2 linked regions of the Homo sapiens genome follow. The protein of the gene in region 2 interacts with the protein of the main gene of each other region in a pairwise test. Each region holds a gene or a part of one and is shown on either strand. Other genes may lie near its edges.

What was found. Proteins that work in one complex are often made in the same cells at the same time.
Region 1: the proteins of DEUP1 (region 2) and BRMS1L interact in binary tests that used the Homo sapiens proteins (3 or more experiments, as listed by UniProt).

Annotation. Positions count from the first base shown.
Region 1 is NC_000014.9:35,829,338-35,832,837, forward strand, and holds part of BRMS1L (breast cancer metastasis-suppressor 1-like protein), read left to right. Parts: intron 1-457; exon of another isoform or gene 458-570; intron 571-1,343; exon of another isoform or gene 1,344-1,443; intron 1,444-2,072; coding exon 2,073-2,163; intron 2,164-3,500. UniProt on the Homo sapiens protein: Involved in the histone deacetylase (HDAC1)-dependent transcriptional repression activity. When overexpressed in lung cancer cell line that lacks p53/TP53 expression, inhibits cell growth.
Region 2 is NC_000011.10:93,372,242-93,375,741, forward strand, and holds part of DEUP1 (deuterosome assembly protein 1), read left to right. Parts: intron 1-3,500. UniProt on the Homo sapiens protein: Key structural component of the deuterosome, a structure that promotes de novo centriole amplification in multiciliated cells.

The DNA of each region.
Region 1 (3,500 bases), on a different chromosome or scaffold from region 2:
TAAAATTCTCCCCCTATAATTTTTATGTTGACTCTTGTGATTTTTAACTTTTAAAAATTCCATCCCAAAAAATAATGAACAACTTAATTTTTGAAGAATGTGATAATAATTTGAACTACAAGTCAAAATTTTAAGTGCAAAGAAATTGTTTAAATAAATTTTGCAGTTTGCTTCTGTTAAAGCATCTCTGTTCTACCATATGTCTTTCATGTTAAACTTTCACAGTGTTTTCTTCTCAAATGTTGGTGCTGAGCAAATTCTAAGGCTACGGAAAAGCCTCTACTATCCAGAGAACTTGGATAGTGAGTCATCTTGAGGGACCAAGTTTTGAGTAGCCAAGAAGTAAGCAATCAAAAGCCAGAAGTATTTTTAATCTGTTTTAGAAAATGAGAAAAAAATGAGTCAGCCTTCCATGTTATATAAAAATAATTGAACATGATTTAACTCTTTCTCATAGTTTGACTTTTATTTGATGAAGATCAAGATGCAGATCATTTTGTGCTTCAGTTATTTTGATGAATGAATATATGTGATATGAACATAGAAAATGTGGACTATAGGACAGACCTGGTAATTAACAGTTGCTTTCCTTAAAAAGTTTGTATTTTCCTCCTCATTTGCCTCTTTCTCACTGATAGTAATATGGGTAGACGGAATAAGGGAACGTAGGAATGGCAGACCAGGAGAGCCTGTGGTAAACATAATAAGATTAGTTTTCCTTTTTCTTTTTCTTTTTTTTTCCTTTTTTTGAGATGGAGTTTCGCTCTTGTTGCCCAGGCTAGAGTGCAATGGCACGATCTTGGCTCACCACAACCTCCACCTCCTGGGTTCAAGCGATTCTCCTGCCTCAACCTCCCAGGTAGCTGGGATTACAGGCATGTGCCACCACGCCCAGCTAATTTTGTATTTTTAGTAGAGATGGGTTTTCTCCATGTTGGTCAGGCTGGTCTCGAACTCCTGACCTCAGGTGATCCGCCTGCCTCAGCCTCCCAAAGTGCTGGGATTACAGGAGTGAGCCACCATGCCTGGCCTTTCTTTCACTTTTTATTTTTGAGACAGGATCTCTGTTGCCCAGGCTGGCGCAATCTTGGCTCACTGCAACCTCTGCCTATCAAGTTCAAACGATCCTCCCACTTCGGTCTCTCGAGCAGTTGGGACTACAGGCATCCACCACTATGTCTGGCTAATTTTTGTATTTTTATTAGAGATGGGGTTTCACCATGTTGCCCAGGCTGGTCTTGAACGCTTGAGCTCGAGCAATCCTCCAGCCTCAGCCTCCCAAAGTGCTGGGATTACAGGCATGAGCCACCACACCCGGCCACTTTTCTTTTTTTATGTGACAGGCAAATCAGCCATGTGAGCAGTTCTGAAAGAAGAATCCCAAAAATGTTTTTGAGCAATGTTAGCCTTTAAAGGACACAGTCATTTTGGTGCTACATTCTGGTGAGTTGGTGGAAAACAAACCAAATGTGGGCTAATTACTTTATAGTTATAGCTTATAGTCAGTCCTTTAAAGTGATTTAAAAATGAATAAAAGTAAGAGGGTCTAGAGACCAGTATAGTTTTATATACTCATCTGTATTTTAGATTAAATCTATAGTGGATTTTTTTTTTTTTTTTTTTTAGACTAGGTCACTCTGTCACCCAGGGTGGAGTGCAGTGTCACAATCATGGCTTACTGCAGCCTCCAACTCCTGGGCTCAGGCGATCCTCCTGCCTCAGCCTCCTGGTAGGTGAGACTACAGGCTCATGGTACCGTGCCCAGCTAATATTTTTATATTTTGTAGAGATGGGGTCTTCCTCTGTTGCCCAGGCTGATCTTGAAGTCCTGGGCTCAATCTGTCCTCCTGACTTGGCCTTCCAAACTGCTGGAATTAGAGGCATGAGCCACTACGCCCAGCAGAAATTATTATTTTTGATAAATCTTGTTTATTTTCTTTTAAGGCTTAATATAGGTCTTCTCTTCATATTACAGTTTTTCTTCCTATTTGAATTACGTTCAGATATATTTGAGATGTTCAGATAAATTTGAAAATTAAGTTTATCTTTTATATTTGCCTTTTTATTAACAGAAATGGATGATGAAGACTGTGAAAGAAGAAGAATGGAATGTTTGGATGAAATGTCCAATCTTGAAAAACAGTTTACCGATCTCAAAGATCAGTAAGTAGTGACTTTAGAAGGCCATTGTCACTGAATCTCAACCTTGTCACTTGTATACTAGCACAAGAGCAACTAGATTCAGTCTCAGCTGTTTTGTATTTTATGCGACAGACCAATTTGAAAGAGGCTTCAACTATTGTTTGTCTACTAAAGACCTCATTAACTAAACTGAGGGTTTGGAGGCAGGGTTTTTTTGTGGGCTTGAACCCAGGAGTTGGAGACCAGCCTGGGCAACATCGGAAGACCTGGTCTCCATAAAATATTTAAAAATTAGCTGGATGTGGTGGTACGTGCCTGTGGTCCCAGCTACTTGGGAGGTTAAGGCAGGTGGATCAATTGAGCCCAGGAGGTCAAGGCTGCAAGTGAGCTGTGCTCGTGCCATTGCACTGCAGCCTGGGCGACAGAGTAAGACACTGTCTTAAAAAAAAAAAAAATTAGTTCTGTCCTGCAGGATTATTGCCAAAAATAAACACTGAGTTGTATCATACTCTAAAGGTATTGGTGACAGCTGGCAAATTAGAGTATTTGTAAGTGGCCTTATAAATAGGAGTAACAGGGACCTCCTGCCCCATTTTTGAGTTCCTTGTTCATTGAGCAACTAATTTTGTTATGGCTTCTTCATTTGTAGTTGAGACAAACTTAGTATGTCAGGTCATAAAAACATTGGTTTTACCTTCATTAGTCTACTTCCTCTTTGCTCTTTTAAAAAATTAAGTAGGCTGGGCCGGGCACGGTGGCTTACGCCTGTAATCCCAGCATTTTGGGAGGCTGAGGCGGGTGGATCACGTGGTCAGGAGATCGAGACCATCCTGGCTAACACGGTGAAACCCCGTCTCTACTAAAAAATACAAAAAAAAAAAAAAAAAAAATTAGCCGGGCGCCTGTAGTCCCAGCTACTCGGGAGGCTGAGGCAGGAGAATGGCGTGAACCCAGGAGGCGGAGCTTGAAGTGAGCGAGATTGCGCCACTGCACTCCAGCCTGGGTGACGGAGCGAGACTCCGTCTCAAAAAAAAAAAAAAATTAAGTAGGCTGAATACAGTAATACTGACTCCTTTTCAGGAACGGTAGAGAGAAGCCAAGTAATTATTTATTTTGACAACTGGTAATGTCTATTCAAAATGATTTCTTTGTTTCTTTTAAACTCAGTGTTTAAATGACCTTTTCTCTTAGAATTGGTTTTATTGTTCTGTGGTTAAAACAAAAACAAACATTAATAGTGCCAAAAAGTAGTTATTTCAATTTTATTTTTTTGTATTGGGAATTGACCATTAAAGAGTGATAGATAGATACCTGTTTTGTGATTATGTGCATAAAGTCAAATAATGTAACTGAGTTCT
Region 2 (3,500 bases):
CTTATTCATCAGTACTTGAGACGTTCTTTTATCTCCCATTTTAGGTTTTTTCTCCCACCTCCAAATATTCAGCCTGTTTCTATCACTTCCTCCATGACAGTTGGCCGATATCTTTTCCCCACTCTATTCCCTCGTCTACCTAGCATACATGATTGAGGTAAGGTCACTGCCTGAGAACTTCCATTTCATTTCCTTGAGATATACCACCCCAAGATCTTTTGCCACTTAAACTCCCAGGGTCATTTCTTAGTCCTCAGCCAACTCCTCATTCCCCCACCGTGCCACATCATATTTGGGATTATATAGGGAGTTAGTCCTTTAACTTCTTTCTCTGCCAGCATCTACTGTTCTATGTTCCTCTTTCCCCATGCTTGGTAAGGGACAGAATTCAAGGCTCCCAGTCTCTCCCATTCAGAGGCAATTGTAAGACATACATATTCCCCACTTCAAACTCCAGCTTTAAGGAGGGAGGTCTTATTCTAATACAAGTTAGAATACAGATGTAAACCAATAAAGAAAGCTAATCTACAAACACTAAATGCAGAGGAAGCCAGAAATAGTCTGGAAATAGCAAAGGTATTGATGGTGTTTTCTCTGGCTTCATTCTAATATAAATGAGGTTAGCACTCATTCATCTGCTCTAGAGGGTGCCTAGGGGCTTCTAAGTGCTTAGCATCAGCCCACCTCCGACTGTCTGAGCTGTGTTTGCATGACTGCGGGTCATGCAGTGATGGGGTCTTTCCTTCTCAGAGGCTGCTGCCTTTTGCTTCGCTAAGTATATGACAACTGGTCATGCTTTCTATTTAAAGGCAACCTATACTTACATTTTGCAGCTGTCTTTGTACTGCTGGAATCTGCATCAGAATCACATTCAGTAAATAAGAAAATTGTTGTTCTTGGTACTTCCCAAGTATTCTCCTCTAGGCTTGGGGTCATCCAGTGCCAACCAAAGCATTCTCTGCTTTGTCCCTTCTTCTTTTGGCAGGGGAACAGGTGGTGGTGGTTGGTTACATAAATAAGTTCTTTACTGGTGATTTCTGAGATTTTGATGCACCCATCACCTGAACAGTTTACACTGTACCCAATTTGTAGTATTTTATCCTTCACCACCCCCAACCCTTTCCCCTGAGTCCCCCAACATCATTCTTATGCCTTTGAAGCCTAATAGCTTAGCTCCTACTTATGAGTGAGAACGTAAGTAGGAGCAATAACAAAATGATGTTTCGTTTTCCATTCCTGAGTTACTTCACTTAGAATAATGGTCTTTAATTCCATCCAGGTTGCTGCAAATGCCATTATTTTGTTTCTTTCTATGGCTGTGTAGTATTCATATATATATACATATATATATACGTATATATATTTATATATGTATATATATACGTATATATATATATATATATATATATACGTATATATATGCCACATTTTCTTTATCCACTCATTGATTGATAGGCATTTGGGCTGGTTCTATATTTTTGCAATTGCAAATTGTGCTGCTATAAACATGCATGTGCAAGTATCTTTTTCATATAATGACTTCTTTTCCTCTGGGTAAATACCTAGTAGTTAGATTGCTGGATCAAATGGTAGATCTACCTTGAGTTCTTTAAGGAATCTCCACATTGTTTTCCTTAGTGGTTATACTAGTTTACATTCCCACCAGCAGGGTAAAAGTGTTACCTTTTCACCACAACCATACCAACATCTATTATTTTTTTGATTATGGCCAGTCTTGCAGGAGTAAGGTGGTATTGCATTGTGGTTTTGATTTGCATTTCCCTGATCATTAGTGACGTTGAGCATTTTTTCATGTGTTTGTTGGCCATTTGTATATCTTCTTTTGAGAATTGTCATTCATGTCCTTAGCCCACTTTTTGATGGGATTGTTTGTTTTTTTCTTCCTGATTTGTTTGATCTCCTTATCAATCCTGGATATTAGTCCTTTGTCAGATGCATAGTTTGTGAAGATTTTCTCCCACTCTGTGGGTTATGTGTTTACTGATTATTTATTTTGCTGTGTAGAAGCTCTTTAGTTTAATTAGGTCCCATCTATGTATCCTTGTTTTTGTTGCATTTGCTTTTGGGTTCTTGGTCATGAAGTCTTTGCCTATGCCAATGTCTAGAAGGGTTTTTCCAACGTTATCTTCTAGAATCTTTATGGTTTCAGGTCTTAGATTTAAGTCTTTGATCCATCTTTAGTTGATTTTTGTATAAAGTGAGAGATAAGGATCCAGCTTCATTCTTCTCCAATTATTCTTGCCAATTATTCCAACACCATTTGTTGAACAGGGTGTTCTTTCCAGACTTTATGTTTTTGTTTGCTTTGTCAAAGATCAGTTGGCTGTAAGTATTTGGGTTTATTTCTGGGTTCTCTATTGTGTTCCATTGGTTTCTGTGCCTATTTTTATACCAGTACCATGCTGTTTTGGTGACTATAGCATTATAGTATAGGGTATTTGGTAATTTGATGCCTCCAGATTTGTTCTTTTTGCTTAGTCATGCTTTAGCTATGCAGGCTCTTTTTTTGGTTCCATATGAATTCTAAGAATTTTTTTCTAATTCAGTGAAGAATTATGGTGGTATTTTGATGGGAATTTCATTGAATTTGAAGATTGATTTTGGGAGTATGGTCATTTTCACAATATTGATTCTACCCATCCATGAGCATGGGATGTGTTTCCATTTGTTTGTGTCATCTGTGATTTTTTTCAGCTGCGTTTTGTAGTTTTCCTTGTAGAGGTTTTTCACATCCTTGGGTAGGTATATTCCTAAGTATTTCTTTTTCTTTTCTTTTTTTTTTTTTTGCACTATTGTAAAAGAGGTTGAGTCTTTATTTGATTTTCAGCTTGGTCACTGTTGGTGTATAGCAGTGCCACTGATTTTTGTACATTGATTTTGTATCCTGAAACTTTACTGAATTCATTTGTCAGTTCTAGGAGCTTTTTGGATGAATCTTTAGAGTTTTCTAGGTATATGATCATGTCATCAGTCAACAGAGATAGTTTGACTTCTTTTTTACTGATTTGGATGCCCTTTATTTCTTTCTCTTGTCTGATTGCTCTGGCTAGGACTTTCAGTACTATGTTGAATAGAAGTGCTGAGAGTGGGCATCCTTGTCTTCTTCCAGTTCTCAGGGAGAATGCTTTCCCCATTCAATATAATGTTGGCTGTGGGTTTGTCGTAGATGGCTTTTATTACCTTAAGGTATGTCCTTTCCATGCCAATTTTGCTGAGGGTTTTAATCATAAAAGGATGCTGGATTTTGTCACATAATTTTTCTGTGTCTATTGAGATGATCATGTGATTTTTGTTTTTAATTCTGTTTATGAGGTGTATTGCATTTATTGACTTGCATATGTTAAACCATCCCTGCATCCCTCATTTGAAACCCACTTGATCATGGTGGATTATCTTTGTGATATGCTGTTGGATTCAGTTAGCTAGTATTTTGTCCAGGGTTTTTGCATCTATGTTCATCAGGGATATTGGTCTGTAGT